Homo sapiens: one gene and its partners. The protein of the gene in region 2 purifies or fractionates together with the protein of the main gene of each other region. This does not show direct contact. Each region holds a gene or a part of one and is shown on either strand. Other genes may lie near its edges.

Evidence for each region.
Region 1: the proteins of GOLGA8A (region 2) and GCA purify together in Homo sapiens (affinity purification with mass spectrometry; one large-scale study listed by BioGRID and IntAct). This does not show direct contact.
Region 3: the proteins of GOLGA8A (region 2) and DMBT1 purify together in Homo sapiens (affinity purification with mass spectrometry; one large-scale study listed by BioGRID and IntAct). This does not show direct contact.
Region 4: the proteins of GOLGA8A (region 2) and ZNF320 purify together in Homo sapiens (affinity purification with mass spectrometry; one large-scale study listed by BioGRID and IntAct). This does not show direct contact.
Region 5: the proteins of GOLGA8A (region 2) and TRIM26 purify together in Homo sapiens (affinity purification with mass spectrometry; one large-scale study listed by BioGRID and IntAct). This does not show direct contact.
Region 6: the proteins of GOLGA8A (region 2) and ZNF483 purify together in Homo sapiens (affinity purification with mass spectrometry; one large-scale study listed by BioGRID and IntAct). This does not show direct contact.

What each region holds. Positions count from the first base shown.
Region 1 is NC_000002.12:162,347,132-162,350,631, reverse strand, and holds part of GCA (grancalcin), read right to left. Parts: intron 3,055-3,500; coding exon 2,890-3,054; intron 1-2,889. UniProt on the Homo sapiens protein: Calcium-binding protein that may play a role in the adhesion of neutrophils to fibronectin. May play a role in the formation of focal adhesions.
Region 2 is NC_000015.10:34,427,809-34,431,308, forward strand, and holds part of GOLGA8A (golgin subfamily A member 8A), read right to left. Parts: intron 1-3,500. UniProt on the Homo sapiens protein: May be involved in maintaining Golgi structure.
Region 3 is NC_000010.11:122,626,754-122,630,253, forward strand, and holds part of DMBT1 (scavenger receptor cysteine-rich domain-containing protein DMBT1 isoform e precursor), read left to right. Parts: intron 1-3,086; coding exon 3,087-3,240; intron 3,241-3,500.
Region 4 is NC_000019.10:52,894,836-52,898,811, forward strand, and holds the start of ZNF320 (zinc finger protein 320), read right to left. Parts: upstream 2,801-3,976; 5' UTR 2,685-2,800; exon of another isoform or gene 2,643-2,684; intron 601-2,642; exon of another isoform or gene 1-600.
Region 5 is NC_000006.12:30,203,407-30,206,906, forward strand, and holds part of TRIM26 (tripartite motif-containing protein 26), read right to left. Parts: intron 1,360-3,500; 5' UTR 1,250-1,359; intron 1-1,249.
Region 6 is NC_000009.12:111,523,817-111,527,978, reverse strand, and holds the start of ZNF483 (zinc finger protein 483), read right to left. Parts: upstream 2,801-4,162; 5' UTR 2,717-2,800; intron 2,403-2,716; exon of another isoform or gene 2,186-2,402; intron 2,162-2,185; exon of another isoform or gene 816-2,161; intron 712-815; 5' UTR 584-711; coding exon 172-583; intron 1-171. UniProt on the Homo sapiens protein: May be involved in transcriptional regulation.

The DNA of each region.
Region 1 (3,500 bases), on a different chromosome or scaffold from region 2:
GTTCATATACTTTAAGTTGTAATTTTATATGATGAATGTATTATATAGTCAAACAGAGATAATAGAATTATTCTCAGTATAATACTACTTATTCCCAGTATAATCCTTTAAAATGGCAATGGTATAATGAGTAGAACAGTTAAGGTACCATTTAGCTGCAAACAGGAGAAAATATTATTGAAGATGCTTAAACCAATAGGGGTTTATTGTTTCATACAATAGGTCTGAGGCTAGGCAGAACAGGGCTGTATGGCAACTTAGACATGTCATCAGTCTCTACATTTTTCCACATTCCCTATCTATAGGTCTTTATCTCAAGCCTGTTGTCTCAGGGTCACGAGATGGCTACTGCACCTCCATACCTCAAGTCCCCTTTCCAGGCAGGAAGAATGAAGGGGCAAAAACAGCCACAGCCAAGGCTTGCTCCCAGTAAGGCTTTTTTCATTTGGGGTAGAAAGATTTTCCAAAGATACTGCACCTACATGTCAATGGTCAGTCCTACGGCACATGGCTGCCTTTAATAGCTACAAAGGTATCTGGGATGGTGACTATTATAGTTCCCCAGCCTCTATTACATAATAAAAGGTAAAAGGGGGTTTTAAATGAAATTGGGGTAGCCAAAACAGAATGTCTGCCACGTATATTAATTCTGTGTATATTGTCTAATCCTAGAAAAGCACATTAGACCTAGTGAACACTCAAGGGAATGAATAAAATGTTATTAAAGTTCTATAAAATTCTACCTACATCAATAAATCTTTCTTGACCATTATAAAAGAAAAGAGATATGGACTACAGCTAAGACTCTAGAGTGAATTTCTGTTTCTGCCCATTAGTATGGTATTAGAACATCCATTCTGCCAGTTTCTTTGCCTTTTCCTAATCTGTTTTATCATCGAGCCTGTCCCAGAACCATCCACAATTTACAAATCTCCTCTTTGATACATTGCCCCAACTCCTTCAAGATGATTTTCATGTAGATCTCTTTTTCCAAATCCTCTCTGGCCCCCAGTCTCCATGCACCAATCCACTGTATTCCATAACCACAGAAGAGCTTTCAACTTTCCCCCCAAATTGTTAAACAAGTGAATGAAACATATCAAGAAAAAAAAACACACATCTTAAAAAGATGTTCCCAAATGTTTCATTAACACATGCAACTATCTTAGTTCATCACTCTTCTAAGAAGTTTTGTAGACAAAAACACAAATATAGCAGGTGCTGCAATACATGCTGAAGCAGCAGCAAAAAAAAAAAGACAAGCTCATTTATTTCAACAACAGGAGATAAACATCAATACACCCTCTTTTCAATCCTTTAATATATCTGGAATTCATGCTACTATATGGTACAGGCTGAAGATTTACATTTACTTTTAGATAAACTGTTAATTATTTCAGGATAGTTAATTCAGGAATCATTCTTTCCCCACTGATATGAAATGCTACCTCTACCATATACTGAATTCACAGGTAAGCTTCTGGGCTCTTCAGTATTATGTTTGTTTTTACATTAGGACCACACTATCACAATTATTAATAATACATTTATATGATATATTATAATTTAATATTTATTCTCAACAACATAGTATACAAGACAGACTTTAGAATCATTGCAGCAAGTGCCAAAAAGAAAAAAGAAAAAGAAACCTTTAGGAATTTGACTCATATAATATTATATTATTTATCAATTAATTTGGAAGACATTGGCATCTTATAATATTGTATTCCTTCCGATCTTGAATATTTACTCAATACTTCTGTCAAATACAACTAATAACTGATACAAAGGGGTATAATACATATCCTATTTGCTTAATTTTCCTTGAAATTTCACATGAAAAATATATATAAAATCACTTGGAAAAGAATAAACTGTGGTATGGTGTTACAGTTATGTAGGAGTAAAAGAAAAGCTTCCGTTGACCACAGTATTCACATATCATCAGTAACAATTCACCCACAGAATTCATGTACTTGAACTGGCAGTTTCACACGTCCCTATTGGTCATAATAAAGTCAGTCCTTTAAATAATCACTCAAATTTACTGGAAACAAATAACATCCTAAAACCATACCACATCGTAACATACTATTTCCTTTAATTTTTAATTAATAAATCCTGACATGATTATTTTGATAACCTGGAAAATTTACCAGCCATATCAAATCAAAATTACTATAAATGATATAACTTCACCTGTGAAAAAAATGTAATTTCTCAACCTGAATAAATTTACGAGACTCTGAAGTGATTTCCAATCATATTGTTTGACATACTTAGGTTTTAACTGAGTTTTTTTTAAAAAATGGGAGTGAGGCCCAAGTTAGAAATATTGTTCCTTATAATTTTTTAAAGTGCTTCCTACTTTCCTAAAATTTCCAATAGTCATTTTTGCATGCTATAAAAGAATGTGCAGGCTAAACCTACTTAGCTTTGTGTTATCTATCACTCAGGGAGAGTATGATGCTCCTAAATGTCAAACAGAGTGAAGGAAATAAAAAGATTTAAGTGACAGAAAAATTATAACTCATAAGAAGATATATCTAAGTTTTGGTGGGGTGTTTAGTGACTAGTAAGAGGAGCCCCTTGTAGAAGAATTTCAGTAACGCAAGCATACTAGGTAAGAAAGAATCAGATTTCCGCACTATGGAAAACAATGTTTCCTCTTTTAGTCAAATGAACAATGTATCAAGCATCACATCAACAGACTTTTAAAATGAAATAATTATGACTATGCTCATCTCTGATCTCAGGAAAAAAATTAGTCTAGATACATATAAAATATAAATTTCATATACATTTAAAATGATACTCTAAATAGCTGACATTTCTCTTAAACAATAATTTTAAAGACATATTTATGCAATAAATTTAGCATCTCACCTGTCCAGCAACAGCACTGAAGTAAGTATACACGGAGTCACCAGCTGAGGAATAAGTGTCTGAATATGCTGGCCCAGAGTATCCATCGAGGAGTATAGCTGGGCCTGTTTCTGGCACTGGCTGTCCCATCTGCATTCCTGGCACCTGAATGCTAAAATTTCCAAACTATAATAGTGAAAGGGGAGAAGGTTAGTAATATAAATACTACCTATTATCTATGAAAGTTGGATTAAAAGAAATTATTAGAAGTCCGTCAAAAAGTAAACAGTTACCAAAAGCTTATAATCTTATCACAAAAATTTTAACTACAAAATGTTAGATGTCCTACATTAAGACATAATTCAATTCATCAACATATATTACCCAGCATTAAAAGAAGTATAAAAGAAAAAAGAAAGTTACTAGCCTCTAAGAACTTAATCTAAGAGGAACATGTACAATTTTAAAAAATGTTTACCAACATCACTGAAGTAAACAAAAAGTAAAACAATGCAAGATTTTACCTAAAGTAAAACTAAGAAGTAAACCTCAAGACACATACTTAGAAGAATATATGTGTAAATACAATGAAACTTTAAGTGTCAACATTTACAATATGTTGGGTATTGTAT
Region 2 (3,500 bases):
CATCAGGTCACCGGCCCAGCCCCTCAGTGTGCTGGTGAGCAGGACAATCAGAAAAGGCCTCTCTTCCTGGAATAACTAACAGTCTCTCACCATCCCCACTCCCACTGCCCGATGTGTCATGGGAAGTCTCTGAAATTCAGGTTTGGGAAATCAGTTGACATGAACTACAGCATAATATTAGATGTCTGATTAAAATCATCAAGATGATACAAAGGTCTAATCGCAGAGGTGCTCTCCACTCCCAACCCCCACATCAAATGGAGCTTTCTCTCCTTCAAATCAGACTTCTTTTTTTTTTTTTGAGAGAGAGAAGTTCTCACTCTGTCACCCAGGGGAGGGCAGTGACACCCTCACAACTCACTGCAGCCTCAACCTCCTGGGCTTAAGCGATCCTCCCACCTCAGCCTCCCAAGTAGCTAGGACCACACCCGTGAGCCACCACATCTGGCTAATTTTTCTATTTTTTTGTAGAGGTGAGGTCTCCCTGTGTTGCCCAGGCTGATCTCAAACTCCTGGGCTTAAGCGATCCTCCCTCCTCAGCCTCACAAAGTGCTGGGATTACAGCATGAACCACCGTGCCCAGCCTTCAAATCACATTTCTAAGGAGCCTAACAAGCAGCAGGCCTTTCCAGTTACAGCGCATGGAAGTAACAAAGGCAGCCTCAGCCAGCATCCAGCGCAGTCCCAGCAGACAGGGATAATGAAGCGGACGTGGGCCTCACGGGAGGGAATACTGTCCCCCACCTCCACACCATGCTAGTGAGAAAAACAGACTGCCTGCAGCTCCAAAACATACAGCAACTTACCTATCAAACAGGGACCTCTGACGCTTCACATTATCACGTAAGAAATGTTTCTTGCCCAGCAGCCCCCAGAGGATGAACAGCTCCCTCCACCTGAAAGGGGAAGAGGGCCCAAGCTGCAGGCGCCCTGGCCTATCGAGGCCGTGGACAGGAGGCACCCGAATGTCTCCCCAGACCCCACCCTGCTGCAGAGGCCTCTGCAGCCCATCACCCTGCAGCGCTGCTGTTCCCGCTGCTTCTTGGAGAACAGGGGCAATTTAATCTACAAATCCTGTAAATCCTTGTTAAAAAAAAAAAAAAAAAAAAAGAAGGGTAAAATAAAACGTCTGCACTAGCAAGGCTGGGACTTGGCATCAGCTGCCACCTCCTACAGAACCCAGTGGGGAGTGGGCTCCAGAGCCTCCCCGTGATGCTGGCAGTGCCTCGGCCAGACACCTGCCCCCGCCACCCTCCTGCGTCCTCACTGCACCCCTCCCCACCCCATGTCACATCTTCTGCTCATACCTCCCCACACCCTCCTCTCGCCTCTGGATGCACCTCTCAACACGCCCCTGACCGCGTCTTCCTCCCATGCTCTGAACTGTCCACTAGGGAAGCCAGCTGCAGAAATCACTCTCCTAGAATTCACTTGGTAAAATATGTGTTGTTATTGGCCCACCTACTTTGCTCCCAACCCACAGCAAGGGCTCTCCAGGGCTACCAAGCCCCTAATGGTCAGGAACTGCCCCCCAACCCCCATCTCCAGCTCTGACCTACACAAACTACATAATCCTGCTGCCAAAAACTTGGCCCTCCCTATGCCCAGGGTGCCACACTCCAGGCTGGCCCTTCTGCCGAGAGGGCTCTTCTGGCCTGGGCTCTGAACGGGCAAACCCACCCACTCTTCTAGGATGGGGTCCATGATCCACCCCAACCTACCGTGGGGCTCTCACATCTTCCAGACTGTGCCTCTCTAGGAGGGCCTTGGACCCAGAGCCAGAATGGGGCTCTGATGCCACTGCACATTCTCCAGCAACCCCTTCCATGCCCTTCCTCCTGATCCCACCCAGCTCTAAACTGGGAACAAGAAAGCTGGAATATAGTAGCTTCTCAGAAAATACCTACTGAGTACACGGCTGGATAGATGGACAGTGCTCCAGGCAAAGGGACTCGGGGGTAAGAAAAGTGAAGGGTACCTGCTCCCGGTTGTACCACTGCAGAGTCCTTGAGTGTCAAAGGACTGAGAGGTGAATGACGGGCAAGGTGAGACCTACCAGGTTAGTGTCCCGCACCCCTTTGTTTCCACTATTAGATTAAGCCACCCTATGTGACAGATAAAAGGAGCAACACATACAAGGAGTTAGGCCGGGGTTGCCAAAGTGAGGAGTGGGAATGCTGCCAGTCCAGGGGTCCCCCACGGCAGCTCCCCAAATGAAACCAAGACAAGTTGGAGATGAGGCTGCCTCTAGGTGTATCAAATCAACTGAAGTAGCACCAGTCCTCAGTGCTGATTAAGCACAGGCACGCCTGTGATCAAGAAGAAAACCATTACTTAATAAAATGCAGTTAATTTAGAAGCTGAAATCTGTGAAAGCTCAAGGGAAAGACACAATCAGGAGTTCTTGGTCTGGAGGGGCTTCTGCTCTCAAAGCTTCCAACCCAACACAGCACAAAGACGTCTTCCCCAACAACCGCACATCCCACCTGCAAAACGATGACACGCTCCTCTCCAGGTACCTGAACCTTAGGACTCAAAGGGTAGAGAAAGTTCACAGGCAGAATCTTCACAATACATGCACAAAACAAAGGCACTTCTAGTAGGAGCTGTGGGTCAGGAAAATCTCGACTTCACCCAATGCCATTCCCGAGACAATCAGCCATCAATCTGACCCACTCAGTCCTGCCTCAGGGGCTCAGAATCTAGCAGTCAGGCCAGGTGGGAAGTGCAGGGACCTGTGGCCAAAATCGGCCCACTCATCACTCAGCTGACAGCTTTCACGCGTACTAGCCAGAATCAGTTAGAGGCTGGAGGTAGTGCCAGGTGTCTGAAACCCAGCAGGCAGGTTGGTAAAACACTCACACATCCTAACCCTGGTGACTGCACTGACTGCGTGCTTTACTGTAGCAGAACAGTTGCACACATCTCATCTCCTCCATCCATAGTAACTCAGTGGCTGGTGAGGAATGGGACACAGACCTCCACGTGCCCTTCTCGGGATGAGTCAAGACAAACTCTGAGCAGTGACGCTCTACAGCTGGCTCACACGTGGAGGCAGAGCCTGGCTTCCCAGAGCTTCCAGTTCCTAACACACGCCTGGCCCCACTGCACCACACCCGTGACAGCTGCCACCAGCTCCGGATAATTCAGACAGATGCTAGAGCACATGGCTCACTTATTACACCAAAAGACTGAGAAACAGAAACTGTGTTTTAATTGTACAATGCACACACTTGCTTCCAGAGAGACCTGAGAAATCCATCATCCCTAAATGCATGCGGTTACTCAACTAGTGGCTTTACTATTTTTGAAACAATGGATTTTTCCAAGACAGTTGATAATCAAACCAACTGCGGGAAACCATAAACGATACTTGTTTATTAAATTAAGAACAGATACAACAGTTCAGAGGAATTCATATTTAGAGCTGCCTTGCTGGAGAATCAATTCCAGGAATGCCAAACCAACCAAATGAAAAAAAATTATATATATATATATAT
Region 3 (3,500 bases), on a different chromosome or scaffold from region 2:
AGTTGTGACAACTGTTTCCAAGGAAAAGTTCAGTGTGCAAAGAGGAAGTATTAGTAGAGATCTTCCTTGATTGGGGAGTTAGGGGAAGTTCCTTATGGAAGTGACATTTAAGCTGGGAGTTAATAGAGGAGCAGGTTCATTTGCTGAAGTGTCTTCTAACCAGAAGGGATGCTTTGAAGGCCCTAGGGTGGGAAGGAGCTTGGCTCTTTGAAGGAGGGTGGGGTGCGGGCAAGGAGGGACTGCAGGAAATCTGTCGGGTGAGGCCAGATCATTCAGGGCCTTGTGGGTGGGTTAAGACTCCCATCTTTATCCTAAAGGTAGGGAGGCTGCAGAAAGATTTTAATCTTGAGAATTAGCTAATTGGAAATATATTTGCAAAAGATCATGTTTATCTTTTCTGCCAAACTGCATTTCCTGAAGGCAGGGGCCATGTCTGCCTTTTTCATAATGTATCCTTATTATCTAGCATTGTGTCTGCCTTTCAAGAACTGTTTATTGAAGGAATAAATGAGTGAATGAATGAATGGATAAATTAATGAATAAATACATAATTACTGTTGGCATTTTGGCATACATTCCATACACTGTATACACACACACAAACACACACACACACACAGTATGGCATGCTTTATATCCCATTGTATAACCCATCATTTTCATTTAAGTGTATATAATACTTTTTTCATGACCTTAAAATTAGCATTTTTATAACATTGAAATTATTTGTATAGAAGAAGGTTTAATGACTATATGATTTTCCACTGTATAGATATATCATCATTTAGTTAAACGGTTACTAATTGTGGGGCAAAAACATTGTTTCCAATTATATTTTATAATGTTAAGTGACTATATACAATAGCATATTTTATAACCATTTATATTTAATGATTAGAAATATGTAACTCGTATCCTTGTCTCTGAAAGTTTGACTTTATCCTTAATTATTTCCCAGTGTAGAAATAGAAAGGGAGGGCAGGCCACATGATCTTCAAGAAACACTGTCTTCCCATCAAATGGGAGAACGTATTTCTATCTCATAAGGGACTTGTATCTAGGATATATAAGTGACTCTTGTAGTCAATGATAAAAAGTCAAATAACCCAACTGAACAATGAGCAAAAGACCTGAAAGATATTTCTCTACAGAAGATTCACAGATAGCAGAGAAGGCATTGGAAAGATGCTCAATGTCATTAGCCGTCAGGGTCATGCAAATGAAACACCCAGTAGGTGGGCTGTAGTCAAAAAGCCAGATAATAGCAAGTGTTGATGAGGATGTGGAGAAATTGGAAACCTTATGCACGGCTGCAGGGAATGTAAAATGGTACAGCCACTTTGAGAAGCAGTTTGGTGGCTCCTCGAAAGGTTAGACCTGGAGTCACCATATGACCCAGCAGTTGTATTCCTAGGTATATACCCAGGAGAAATGAAAACATATGTCCATACAGAAACTTGTATGTGAATGTTCAGGACAGCTTTATTCATAGTAGCCAAATGTGAATGCAATGCAAATGTCCATCATGGTGAATCGAGAAACAAATATGATATGTCCATGCAGTGGAGTATTATTTGGCAATAAAAATGAATTTAATAGTGGCCGGGCGCGGTGGCTCATACCTGTAATCCCAGCATTTTGGGAGGCCAAGATGGGCGGATTGGCTGAGGTCAGGACTTCGAGACCAGCCTGGACAACGTGGTGAAACCCTGTCTCTACTAAAAATACAAAAATTAGCTGGGCATAGTGGTGGGCGGCTGTAATCCCAGCTACTTGGGAAGCTGGGGCAGGAGAATCGCTTGAACCCGGGAAGCGGAGGTTGCAGTAAGCTGAGATCGTGCCACTGCACTCCAGCCTGGGTGACAAGAGCGAAACTCCATCTCAAAACAAAACAAAAGAAAAAAAAGAATTTAATATTGATTTATGCTACAACATGATGAACTTTGAAAACACATTGAGAAGTCAGTCAAAAAAACTACCATATTGTACAATTTGTTTTATATGAAATGTCCACAATAGGCAAATCTATAGAGACAGAAAAGTAGATCAGTGGGTGCCAGGAATGGAGGGTGTTGAGAAGAAATGGGGAGTGATTGCTAATGAGTACAGGGTTTCTTTTTGGGGTGATGAAAATAATCTAAAATTGACTGTGGTGATTTCAGAGCTCTCAGTATGCTAAAAACCATGGACTTATCCCCTTAGAAAAAGTAAACAAAGAGTTATGAAAAAGAAAAAAAAAGACGTTTTAATTTCTATCACTGAGTGTGCACATGTTTTTAAAAAGTTTTTATTACTATAAACCAACCAACAAAATGTTTGACCACTTAATATTTATCCTTTTCTGATAAATAACAATAGCTAATATTGCTGGGTGCTTATGTGCCTGGCACTCTCTAAGAGTTTATATAGACATAGAAACCTATCTTATGTTTATGTATAAATGTTCATATATACATATCTTATTTAATACCCTCATCAGACAGATGAGGCAGATGCCATTACCACTCTCATTTTTCTGATGAGGAAACTGAGGCAGAGAGGTTAAGTAACTGGCTCCAGATCATGGAGCTGATAGAGGCAGAGCCAAGATGCAAACCCAGGCTTCTTGTTGCAGAAACCCTGCTCCTAACCCAACGTTGTGCTACTTGTGAATTGGCAGAGTCCTGTGCTCATGGAAGACGCTAGGGAACACACTGTGTTATGGAGTGCTCTCCACGGGTCAGCACTGTGTTCAGCCAGGACTATCCCACGTCCCTGTCTGTAGCTGATTGAACAATGATAGCTGTCACTTTGTTGCTTTCTTGGCATTTTTGCTAGAGGTGACACATGCTCCCTCTGAAGCTTGGGTCACCTCCTCGCAGAGGGTTGCTGTCCAGGCCTAACAGGGAAAGCAGGGACTTGAATCAAAGCTTCTAATGTTGGGCCACCTAGAACCAGGCCCAAGAGAGGGGACTTGTTTACAGGGAAAGTTAAGTCTTGTTATAAAGTGCAGAAGATGAAACTGGATGATACTTACACAGATGATTCCTTGTCACAAAATACCTGAAGACCTGGTACAATGGAGATGTCCCCTCTCTCCTCTCTAGGACCCTCTTCAAATTGTGGTGGCTTCTTATTCTATGCCAGTGGGACATTCTCCAGCCCATCCTACCCTGCATACTACCCCAACAATGCTAAGTGTGTTTGGGAAATAGAAGTGAATTCTGGTTATCGCATAAACCTGGGCTTCAGTAATCTGAAGTAAGTAATGCCTGGTCATCTGGTGAGGGGTGAGTTCCTCTGCAGCACACCCACTGGTTTAGACTGTGTCCTGGGCTGGGATGCTTTTCACTCTCATGTGCCATGGACAAGCTTTTGGTGGCTTTGATTCCTACCATAAAGCATCAGGGAACACTGATGTCCTTTGACTTAATTGAGGAAGAGCTAGAAGAAAAACCTGTATTCAATGGCATCCCTCGTAAAGTGCAAACTATTTATAAAATGGAGGGGCAATAGGAATT
Region 4 (3,976 bases), on a different chromosome or scaffold from region 2:
CACTCCAGCCTGGGTGACAGAGTGAGACTCCTTCTCAAACAAAACAAAACAAAACAAAAACCAAAACAACAACAACAACAAAAAACACTGAAAGAGAGGCAATGGTAGTCATAAGCTGTAAGCAAATGTTTTCTTCATGAACACATGGGCTCTGCTGGAACAAGGTTCCAAAACAATCCAGCCCATCGTTCAACATCTGCAAGGAATATTATGAACCAGAGGAACTTGAGGGAGACATTTACTTAGAAGCTCACAGCTCACCATTTTATCAGATGACATAAGGAAAGAAAATAGAATAGGCTACTTGAACCAAATTTTGATGTTAGCGTAAAGAAGAAAGGTCCTGGGGCCGGGCGTGGTGGCTCACACCTTAAATCCCAGCACTTTGGGAGGCCGAGGTGGGTGGATCACCTGAGGTTGGGAGTTTGAGACCAGCCTGACAAACATGGAGAAACCCCATCTCCACTAGAAATACAAAATTAGCTTGGCGCAGTGGCACATGCCTGTAATCCCGGCTACTGGGGAGGCTGAGGCAGGAGATCACTTGAACCCAGGAGGCGGAGGTTGTGGTGAGCCAAGATCGCGCCATTGCACTCCAGCCTGGGCAATAAGAGCAAAACTCCATCTCAAAACAAACAAACAAAATAGGTCCTTGATATCTTTATAAAGTACACATTGAAACAACCTAAAATTGGCCAGGCACGGTGGCTCACACCTGTAATCCCAGCACTTTCTGAGGCTGAGGTGGGCGGATCACCTGAGGTCAGGAGTTCAAGACCAGCCTGGCCAACATGGTGAAACCCCGTCTCCATTAGAAATACAAAAATTAGCCAGGCGTGGTGGCAGGCGCCTGTAATCCCAGCTACTTGGGGGCTGAGGCAGGAGAAGAGCTTGAACCCAAAAGACGGAGGTTGCAGTGAGCCGAGATCGTGCCATCACACTCCAGCCTGGGGGTAGAAGGGAGACTTTGTCTCAAAAAAAAGTAAGAAAGAAAAAAAGAAACAACCTAAAATCATTTATCAGGTACTAGTAAATGCTTCCAATATATGATACAGACTAGAAAGCATGCAGTCTTCTATGTAAACTGAACACAACAAATTTCATAGAGAAACTTTTAAAATGGTTAAAAATATATACATCTAAAAATGTATATATCTAATAAAATGTAGGGTCAAAGAAGAAAATTTTGAACTCATATCATAGTTGGAAAACAATGATGTGAGCTCATAAGATTCTACCAAAGCTTATTTGAAAAGTAGTTATCTTACTTTTTTCAGACGGAGTCTCGCTCTGTCACCCCAGGCTGGAGTGCAGTGGCATGATCTCAGCTCACTGCAACCTCCCCCTCCCTGTCCAAGGGATTCTGCTGCCTCAGCCTCCTGAGTAGCTGGGATTACAGGCGCCCGACATCACACCTGGCTAATTTCTGTATTTTATTCGACACGAGATTTCGCCATGTTGACTAGGCTGGTCTCGAACTCCTGACCTCAGGTGATCTGCCCGCCTTGGCCTCCCAAAGTGCTGGGATTACAGGCATGAGCCATTGCACACGGCCTTTATTTTTATTTATTTATTTTTTAATTAAGAAACAAGGCGGGCATGGTGGCTCATGCCTGTAATTCCAGCATTTTGGGAGGGCGATACAGCTGGATCGCTTGAGCCCTGGAGTTGGAGACCAGCCTGAGCAACAAGGCAAAAGCCCGTCTCTACCAAGTACACAAAAATTAGCGCGGTGTGGTGGCGCGCGGCTGTGGTCCCAGCTACTCTGCAGGCTGAGGTGACAGGATCGCTTGAGCATAGGATGTTGATGATGCAGTGAGCTGTGATCCTGTCACCGCTCTCCCGCCTGGGCAACAGAGTGAGACCCCATCTCCAATAAAAAAGAATAAAAAAGAAATACCTGGGTCCTGGGTCTGGGGGCAGCGAATCTAAGGCCAATTAAGGCAAACTTTCTAAAACTAGACAAAAAGGAAAAACCCCATCTCCCCATCCGGAGTAACAAAGGATCAAAGGCCGCTGTCCCTACCGCCCTCCTCCTTCCACCACGTCTCAGAAAGGGAAAGAGCCCAGGAGTGGCCATGGCCAAGCACCGGCCACACCTTCATCTGCATAGGGCACCCATCTGCTCCGGCCTCGGGCCAATTCACCTCAGCATTTCGTTGGCCAAGGGCCAAAAATCCTTCATCCAGATAAGGGGTAGCCCATAGGGACCTCAAAATAAATACTTTAACCCCCTAAAACTTTCTAAACGGGTCCCCGGAGACGCTGGCTCGGGCCCACTCCCCTCTGTGGAGTGCTTTCTTGATTGCATATATTCGTTTTCCAGGAGTTGGAACTAGGTAGCAACACCGCACAAGGAGGGAGGTGGGGAGCGACGGAGCCTTCGGACAGGGGTGGCGTCTGCAGGATCTTAGGACCAGGCAGAGGACGCGGCCTCCCGGGAACCGGGGTTGAGGCGCGGCGCTCCTGAAGCCGCCGAGAGCGACGGTGGGAGGCGCCTAGGGCTGGAATCCAGCTCGCGGGTGAGGACTTGAAACAGCGCGAGGCGGGAGGACAGGTCAGGAAGGGTTTTGAGAAGGAAAATTCCGCGATAGGAGGTGTCTGCACGACCCCACTGCAGAAAGACCGAGGACGGGACCTGCCTCAGGGCCACTTTAAACTCGAAGGGACTCACGGACTCTCACCCGGACGTCTCAATTTGCTCTGGGTTGAGAAAGAGGGGCCGCAATTTCCAGGTCTGTGGGGACTCAACGTCCCCGGTATAGCAGCACCACAGGACTGGGAAGCACACATAAAACAGAGCGAAACTCACGCGCTGTGGTGTGACCTTCAGTCCCTGCCATCCGCTTCCGGGTCTATGCCAATCAGCGCAGGACAGAGGCCAGGCCTGGGCGGGACCCCCGAGAAGGTAGGCGGGGCCTGGACTAGGCCGGGATGAGACGCGAAGAGGTGGGCGGGGCCTGAACAAGGCCGGGGCGGGGTTGAGAAACAAGGGGCCTGGCTGGGAGAAGAGTCCTGGGCTATGAGGGGTCGGCGGGGGCGAGAAGCGGGTGGGTCCTGAGCTTTCCTCCATCTCGCTCTCTGCGCCTTTTTTCCAGGTTTTGGAGGCGAAAGCCGCCAGTGAGGCTGGAGCAGCTCAGCAGTCATTGAAATAGTACCTCCCTGAGAAGTCAACGTGAGGCGGTCATTGGACCCAGGAAAGTTCCTTGCTATTGAAATTAATTTTAGCAATTTATGTCCAAAATCTGGAAGTTGTCAAGGGAAGGAATGCAAACTAGAATGCGAAATACAAAGCTCTGCCTCAGCGAAACCTCCAATTTCCTGCTGACGGCCCACAGAACAGAATAGCAAATCCTCTCCCTTTCTATTTTCCATTCACTGGGGTGGGAGAATCCACCCTGTGCTCAGCTCCAGAGACTTCCTCAGGGCCACCGCCTGGGGTGCGGAGCGGAGGCCTCAGGCCAGGGAGGAGTGAGGTCACCACCTCCTGCTTAAACACAGCAGGGATGTGGGCGAGGTGGCGAGTCTGGGGTCCCGGCTACTCAGGAAGCAGGAGCCGCAAGACCGCTGAGCCCGGAGGTCCAGGCCAGCGTGGGCGACAAAGTAAGACCCTCTACCCCAGAGCTCCTTCCTCCGCCTCAATAAGAAAAAAAGGGATTTTTAAAAAAAGCATTGACATTGTAACAGTGTGTAGCAGGGCTAGCGGCAGACAAAACTTCTCAGACACTGAGTTGTAGAAGGAAGGGCTTTATTCAGCTGGGAGCGTCAGCAATCTACTGCCTTGAAATCCGAGCTCCCTGAATGCACAATTTCTGTCCTTTTTAAGGGTTCACAACACTAAAGATTTCACATGAAAGGGTCGTGATTGATTTGAGCGAGCAGGCGGTACGTGACAGGGGATGCATGCACCGGTGGTCAGAGAGAAACAGAACAGAGCGGGGAGTTTTACAATGTTCTTCTATACAATGTCTGGAAT
Region 5 (3,500 bases), on a different chromosome or scaffold from region 2:
TATTTATTAATATATTTATTTATTTTTGAGATGGAGTTTTTCTCTTGTTGCCCAGGCTGGAGTGCAATGGCGCAATCTGGCTCACTACAACCTTCGCTTGCCAGGTTCAAGCGATTCTCCTGCCTCAGCCTCCCTAGTAGCTGGGATTACAGGTGCCCACCACCACATCCGGCTAATTTTTTGTAGTTTTAGTAGAGACGGGGTTTCACCAGGTTGGCCAGGCTGGTCTCAAACTCCTGACCTCAGGTGATCCACCTGCCTTGGCTTCCCAAAGTGCTGGGATTACAGGTGTGAGCCACCGCGCCCGGCTGAGAATACCTGTATTTCTAGGCAATGGATGCTGTAGTATTTAGAGCTCCATGTCTCCCACCTAATTTGAAATGGTTCCTTTCTTTTTTTTTTTTTTGAGACAGGGTCTTACTCTGTCCCCCGAGTGCAGTGGAACTATCTTGGCTCACTGCAAAGCAAAATAAAAAGCTAGAAAAGTTTTCTGGGGAGGGAGCTACAGTTTTCTATCACATTCTTAAAGAGGTCTGTAGTAACCATCAAAAATGGTTAAATCACTGATACAGAGATCATGGTGCTTGACACCTTGTAGAAGCTCAATACACATTTACTGAACAAGTGAATGGATTCAGGGGAATTGCAGACAATGTTAGTTGTATAGAACCATTTGTTTTTGAGAGTCTGCCATAACCAGATAAATGAAACACAGTACCACTTCTATGACCAATCCCTTCCCTTGCTTATACAGACTCCTTCTGAGGAAACTGAGGCTCAGCAGGGTTAAGCAACTTGCCCAAGAGCACATGGCTAGGAAGCAGTGTCTGGTGCCAAGGCCTCTGCTCAATCCACTACACTCTCTTCCCTACCCAGGCACACTGTAAAATGGGGTCTAATACCAGCTCCTTTGTTAGGAAGCTCAGATGAGGTCATCTACATGGAAGGGCTTTGTAAGCGGAGTAATGCTGACAAAAGAAAGGGGGCATATATTCTGCTGATACTGACCAAAAGCACCCTAGCCTTAGCTATGACAAACTTTCACATATGGGGTGAGCAATAAAGTGTCCCTGTTGGACAGTAGTTTTCCTTCTTAGTGATAGAGGATCTCAAGATTTCAGAATTAGGAGAAATGAGGTTGAGTATGAGAGATGTGAGCAGACCAGAATAACCGCTCCCCTTCCCCATACACAATTCTGTCAGGTCCAATGCAAAATTCACCCTCTCCAAAAACTCTTCCCCAACTTACCGCACCCTGCTATGGTTCTGCCCTTTTATGCCGTCAGTATATTCTCTGTGATCTCAACAGGTTTCCACAATAAGAGGTAAAACCATTACCCTTCTCTCCATTCCTGACTCCTGGGCAGACAGAAACCAAAATCAGAGCCAAAAAAAAAAAACCTCAGAGATGACCCACTCCACCCCCACTCCCTTTACTCAGATGAGAATTCTGAACCTGAAGAAGTCACTTCATGAACTCCCTTGCACCAGAGGTCACACATCCCTGCTGGGGGTGAGGGGGTATTTTTCTGTCTCTTCAATAAACCAGAAGCGGCCGGGCGCGGTGGCTTCTGCCTGTAATCCTAGCACTCTGGGAGGCAGAGGCGGGTGGATCACCTGAGATCGGGAGTTTGAGACCAGCCTGACCAACAAGGAGAAACCCCATCTCTACTAACAATACAAAATTAGCCAGGTGTGGTGGCGCATGCCTATAATCCCAGCTACTGGGCAGGCTGAGGCAGGAGAATCGCTTGAACCCAGGAGGCGGAGGTTGCAGTGAGCTGAGATCACGCCAATTGCACTCCAGCCTGGGCAACAAGAGCAAAACTCCATCTCAAAAAATAAAAATGAAAAAATAAACCAGAAGCTAGCTGCAATTCTATAGAACCAGGAAGATGCAACAAACAAGCCCTGCAATGTCCTGGTACCCTCCTCACAGGCAGAACTGCAGACACTCCCTACCTTTCTCTAAGAGGTTCCCTTTTCCCTGAAATCCACCCCTCCCCTATAAGTCTCTGGATCTCATAAATACCTAATCTGCATATGTCAACAGACTGGTCAAGGTGACACCATGTAATTTCAAGATGTGGATGCATGCACGATTATTGGCTCCAAGAATAATCACTATGAGCTACAAAAACTAGCTGAAAGCCGGGCACGGGGGCTTGTGCCTGTAATTCCAGCACTGTGGGAGGCTAAGGCAGGAGGACTGCCTGAGCCCAGGAGTTTGAGACCAGCCTGGGTAATATAGTGAGACATTGTCTCCAAAAAAAGAAATTAGCTGAATTAGCTGGGTGCGATGGCACATGCCTATAGTTCCAGCTACTTAGGAAGTTGAGGCAGGAGGATCTCCCGAGCCCGGGAAGTTGAGGCTGCAGACAGCCATGACTGCGCCACTGCACTCCAGCCTGGGTGAAACTCTGGCCTGCCTCCGGCTCCTAGATGCCACCCAGAGAGGTGCCCTGGTAGACAGTGAATCCCAAATGTGGACTCTGGGGCCCAAGAAAGTAAATGGAGAGGCCTGGGTTTTCATCCTGGCCTCCAGGGTACCAGTTCAGGCCTCTCTTGAGTATCCCAAGCTGCTTCTCAAGCATATGTCTGGACCTCCAAACAAGAGCAAAGCACCTGTAATCCCAAAGCACTTAGCCTAGAGCTCCATTCCCTGTGGGTACTCCATTTAAGGGCTCCTGGGTCCCAGATTAATCCCCATATTTTAATCTGAGATAAGCAAACTCTCCATGGGGTAAACTTCCGTGAGACACCTCTAACAAACCTGGAGAGGCCAGAATTCGGGGCAAAAAGCAAGTGATCTGGATGTGCATACTAGGAGTGACTGCACCCCTACTGGCCAGGCCAAAGGCCTGGATCCCAGGCTGTCCCAGGAGATCCCAGTGACTGTGGATGATGCGTTCTTGTGGTCACACTTGGCTTACTTTCCCCACGGAGCCGAGCATCAGTGGTGCTCTGAAGCACAGTGCAGGCCACAAAAACTACCAGGGCTCTGAACGCTAGAAATCCCCACAGGGCTCAAAGAGGGGCAGGAGGTAGCAGCCAGCTGGGAGGTGGATGAGACAAGGCGTTAAATTGCCCTGGTCTTGTGGCTGACCCACAGGGGAAAATTGAGGGTTCTTCATATTTGTGCCAGAATATCTGTCTAATGTTGAATCATGAACCAAGCTCTCTTGTCTAAAATATTCCTAAGTGTCACTTGGTGCTTTGCACCAAATATAGGAAGGAATCCTTTATCATCTTGTGGAATGGTTCAAACCTTGACTACACATCAGATTTGTAGTCTTCAAACTGGTGAGTCTTCAAAACATACCTAGACCAACTGACTTAGGATCTCCAGAGGTGGCCCAGGCTCTGGTATTAAAAAACAAACTTCCCAGGAGATTCTAAAGTCTATCCAGGACTGTGAATCACTAGAACCCCTTATTTACAGAGGAGGACAGTGAGTGCCAGAGCCTCGGACTCATTTGCCCAGCAGCAGAGCTGGCTGG
Region 6 (4,162 bases), on a different chromosome or scaffold from region 2:
GTTTACACAGCTTGCCCAAAATCACACAGTAAATGGCAGGGCTGATTCAAACCCAGTCCCAACTTCTAACCTCAGACTCCTCTTTAGCAGTAAATTGCCTTCTTTTGAGGAATTTACTTTCGGACTTTGAGGCAATGTCTCCCGCTTCCTCCCTCCATCTATAAATCTCACCTTTTTCTTCAAGCATCTGGGTCAAATCTTCTATTAGGGTCACCACTTCCTCACTACTCTCAGGATGTTGTGACTTTACCCAAATCCTGATCTCCCCAGGCAAAATGGTCAGGAACTGCTCAAACACCAGAAGCTCTAAAATCTGTTCTTTCGTGTGAATGTCTGGTCTCAGCCACTGATTGCAGAGCTCCCAGAGTTGACTCAGAGCTTTCCTGGGTCCAGCTACTTCTGAGTAACAAAACCACCTAAACCTCTGTCTGAAAGACTCTGCATCAGCAGCATTTCCTCTTAAAATAGCTTCTTGTTCCCCAGAAGTAACCACTCTTGGGACCTCATTTTGTTCAGTCGAGGCCAGAGTTTGAGGTTCTGGTGAGATGGCTGTCATCTTGTTCAAGGGCACTACAGCTTGCATTGTGTCTCAGGGGCAGGAATCCAGTCCCTTCACACTCTAGTTGAGTATCAGTACAGTCCACCAACAGGCACTATACACAGCCAGGAATATCAAAGGTTCCAGGAATCCAGTTTACAGTCCTGCAGAAACTGTCAAGAAGAAATATTAAGGCATTAAATAAGTAAAAAAACTGTTGTTAGTCCTAAAAACATCGTTCTTGGTTTGGTTCAGAGAAATATATCCACACACATACCAGCAAAGGCCTAGAAAAGCCCTGCTCAATTAAAAGGATAACTTTCTTTCTTTTTTTTTTTGAGACGGAGTTTCGCTCTTGGTGCCCAGGCTGGAGTGAAGTGGTGCGATCTCGGCTCACTGCAACCTCTGCCCCGGCTGGGTTCAAGTGATTCTCCTACCTCAGCCTCTTGAGTAGCTGGGATTATAGGCGCCCACCACCATGCCTGGCTAATTTTTGTATTTTTAGTAGAGACGGGGTTTCGCCATGTTGGCCAGGCTAGTCTTGAACTCCTGACTTCAGGCGATCCACCCACCTCAGCCTCCCAAAGTGTCAGGATTACAGGCGTGAGCCACTGTGCCCAGCCATAATTTTCTTTATAGTCAAAAACCAGGGAGCTACTTAAGGGTTAAGGAAACAGTTGCTTTAGATTGAATACTCCTCCTAAACAAAATGTTATCAGAAAAGGTTCACAAGGGGACCCAGTCACAAAGCTATTTAACAACTCCTACCCTTTCTTAATGAAAGGGCACACATTTCTCACTAGTTGCTCAACTCAGAAGCCCAATTTAATATTTGACTTTCAAATTTCTCTTCCTCCTTACTTCTCCCATCAATCGCCAAGTTCTGGCGATTTTATTTCCTAAGAACCTCTCCATTCTATCCTTCTGAAACTGCCTAAGTACAGGGTTCTTCACTCCAGTCTCACACTGTGGCCAAAAAATTCCTTCTAACATGCAAAATATGATCTTATCACTCCCCGGCTTACAGTCCCTCACCAGCCACCGAACTGTCTCTCGATAAAGTTCACATGCAGGGACCATGGCATTGTGATCTAGAGACACTGTCTGATGACCTCACCTCTTGAGCTCTAGCTACCCGATTGACACTACAGCCATAAATTAGTATCTCCTCTCTCTCTACATACTCTCCTAGCCTTTGCACCAAGGCTATTCCCTCTCCTCGGAATGTTGCTTTCTTTCTCCTACCAAACTTTTATTCGTCTTTAAAGCCTGACTCCTTTCAACTGTCACTTCTGGTGTGATGCTCTGCTTGATCCCAAAGCACTCCTTTGCACACAGACTGCCCTGTGTTGCATTCATTCATTCATTCTATAAGTGACGGAGCAACTACAATGAGCTGGAACGAGACCAGGGGCCATGAGCTGCGGGGCCAGGCGTGGACAGGCCTGAAAGGGTCCTCACGCTCACAGAGGGTCCAGGAAATGACAATACAGCCGGAGCGGGACTACAATGCGACAAGTGAAGGATGTGACAGCCTCGCATTGCAACTACCATACCAATAACAACCCACTTCCGAGTACAGCGCCCGGCACACAGCAGCATGACGTCATTTATTCCTCTGCCAAATATTAGGCGCCCACCACGTACCTGGCGCCGTGCTGAGCACCTGGGGCTCCGCGATGACTAAGACACTCGGCTCCGTCTACAGGGAGTTTACATAGGAGGCCCGGTGAAAATGTGACGCAGCCAGAGGATCTCAACCAGAGGGAAGAAAAAAGGAGAGATTTCACCCCCCAGCGGTCCTCTGGCAATGTCTGGACACATTTTTGGTTAGCTCGACTAGGACGAGAGGTGGTACTGTTATCTAACGGGCAGAACCAGTGACGCTGTTAAACATCCTGCCACAACGGGAGAGCCTCCCCCTCACCGCCACACCACAAACAAAACAAGGCATTATCCCGCCCAAAATGTCAACAGTGCCCAAGTGGCGCAGGGAGGGATGGAGGGAAGCCAACAGCCCCATCCCGCAGCGGAGTGCGCACCTCCCACAGAAGCAGCAGCAGCGCAGCGCACAGCCCGTTGGTAGGCTGCTCCCGGCCCCCATCCCGCCCCAAGTGCGCCCTCGGAGCCGGCGACCCGGCCACGGCCCCGAAACTCGGGGCCCGGGACGACCAGTACCTGCATCAGCATCCGCAAACAGCACCAACGCCACCGCAAAGAGCTTCCAGAAGCTTGTCCCGCAGCGAGTGCGCGCGCAAGCCTGCGGGAACCACTGCGCCTGCGCAGAGGCGCTGAACCGGACTCCCCGAACGCGCTCGTGCAGCTTTCCGAAAGTCCGCGCTTTCCATAGGCTCCCACCTGCCTGTTGCGCATGGTCACTGGGAAGCGGCTAGTGGGCTCGGCTGCAGAATTATTGCTGCGCCAGAGGCTCAGAGGCCTAGAATCGTATGAGGTTTGCAGATCCAGGAGGCTCCATCTGTTTAGTAACCTCAGACCTTCCCTACCCGCTCCCATCACTTCCATTCCCTGAAATCTAAGGTGGAAAAATCCACCGCAGAAGCATATTACCGATGCATTTAATGCAAGCCATAATTAATGCCACAACTTGAGTTAAACACATATTAATCTTATGACTTCCACACCTGCCCCCATGGTCCAGTCCACCCTCATGGCTCACCTGGATTATTGCAATAGCTTCTTGATTATACCTTACTTCTCTTGGCTATTCTCCACAGCCAGACGGACGTTTTAAAAACGTCAAATTATGACCCTCCTTTGCTTAAAACCCTGCAATGGTTTCCCATTTCACTCAGAGTTAAAACCCAAGTCTTTATAGTGGCCTACAAGGCCTGATGGAATCTAGCCCCTGTAACCTCCCGCACCTCTTCCCCACTTTCCTGCTCCAATCTTGATAGACCCCTTCCTCTTCTTGTAACCTGCCAGGTACTTCCGGCTGACCTGCTCCTTCCCTAAGTGGCCATACGGCCCGCTCTCTCATCCCTTCAGGTCTTCTCAATGAAGCTCTCCCACCATTCCACTTAAATAGGAATCCCACCTTACTCTTGTTTCCTCTTCTAACATGCCCTATAGGTTTGTTAATTTTTTTTTTTACTACTTGTCCGCCTTCTCCAGTAGAATACTAATTTCAGAAGAGTAAGTATTTTTATTTCATTTGTTCTAGGTTGTGTGTTTAGGTCCTGGAACAGGACTTGGCCCATGGCAGGCACTCAATAGATATTTGTTGAGCTTATGAATGAGTATTTGCATGGATTATTGGGGGCATTGCAAAAAGGGCCAAAGAACTCCAGAAAAATTGTTTGGAGGGTTCTAATAACTGGATGATCCCTGAAGGGGTGGAGTTAGGAGAGAAAGACTAGATTCATTCTAGACTGAAGGAGCAAGGTGATTCAAGGCCCTGAGACTTCAAAAGGGCAGAGCAAGCTCAACTAAATGAACCACTCCTCTCAAAAGGAGTGGGCTTATCACAGGCAGCAAGTCAAGCTGAAGAGACAGGGCTGAGAATGGCCGGGCGCGGTGGCTCATGCTTGTAATCCCAGCACTTTGGGAGGCTGAGGCGGGTGGATCACCTGAGGTCGGGAGTTTGAGACCAGCCTGACCCACGCG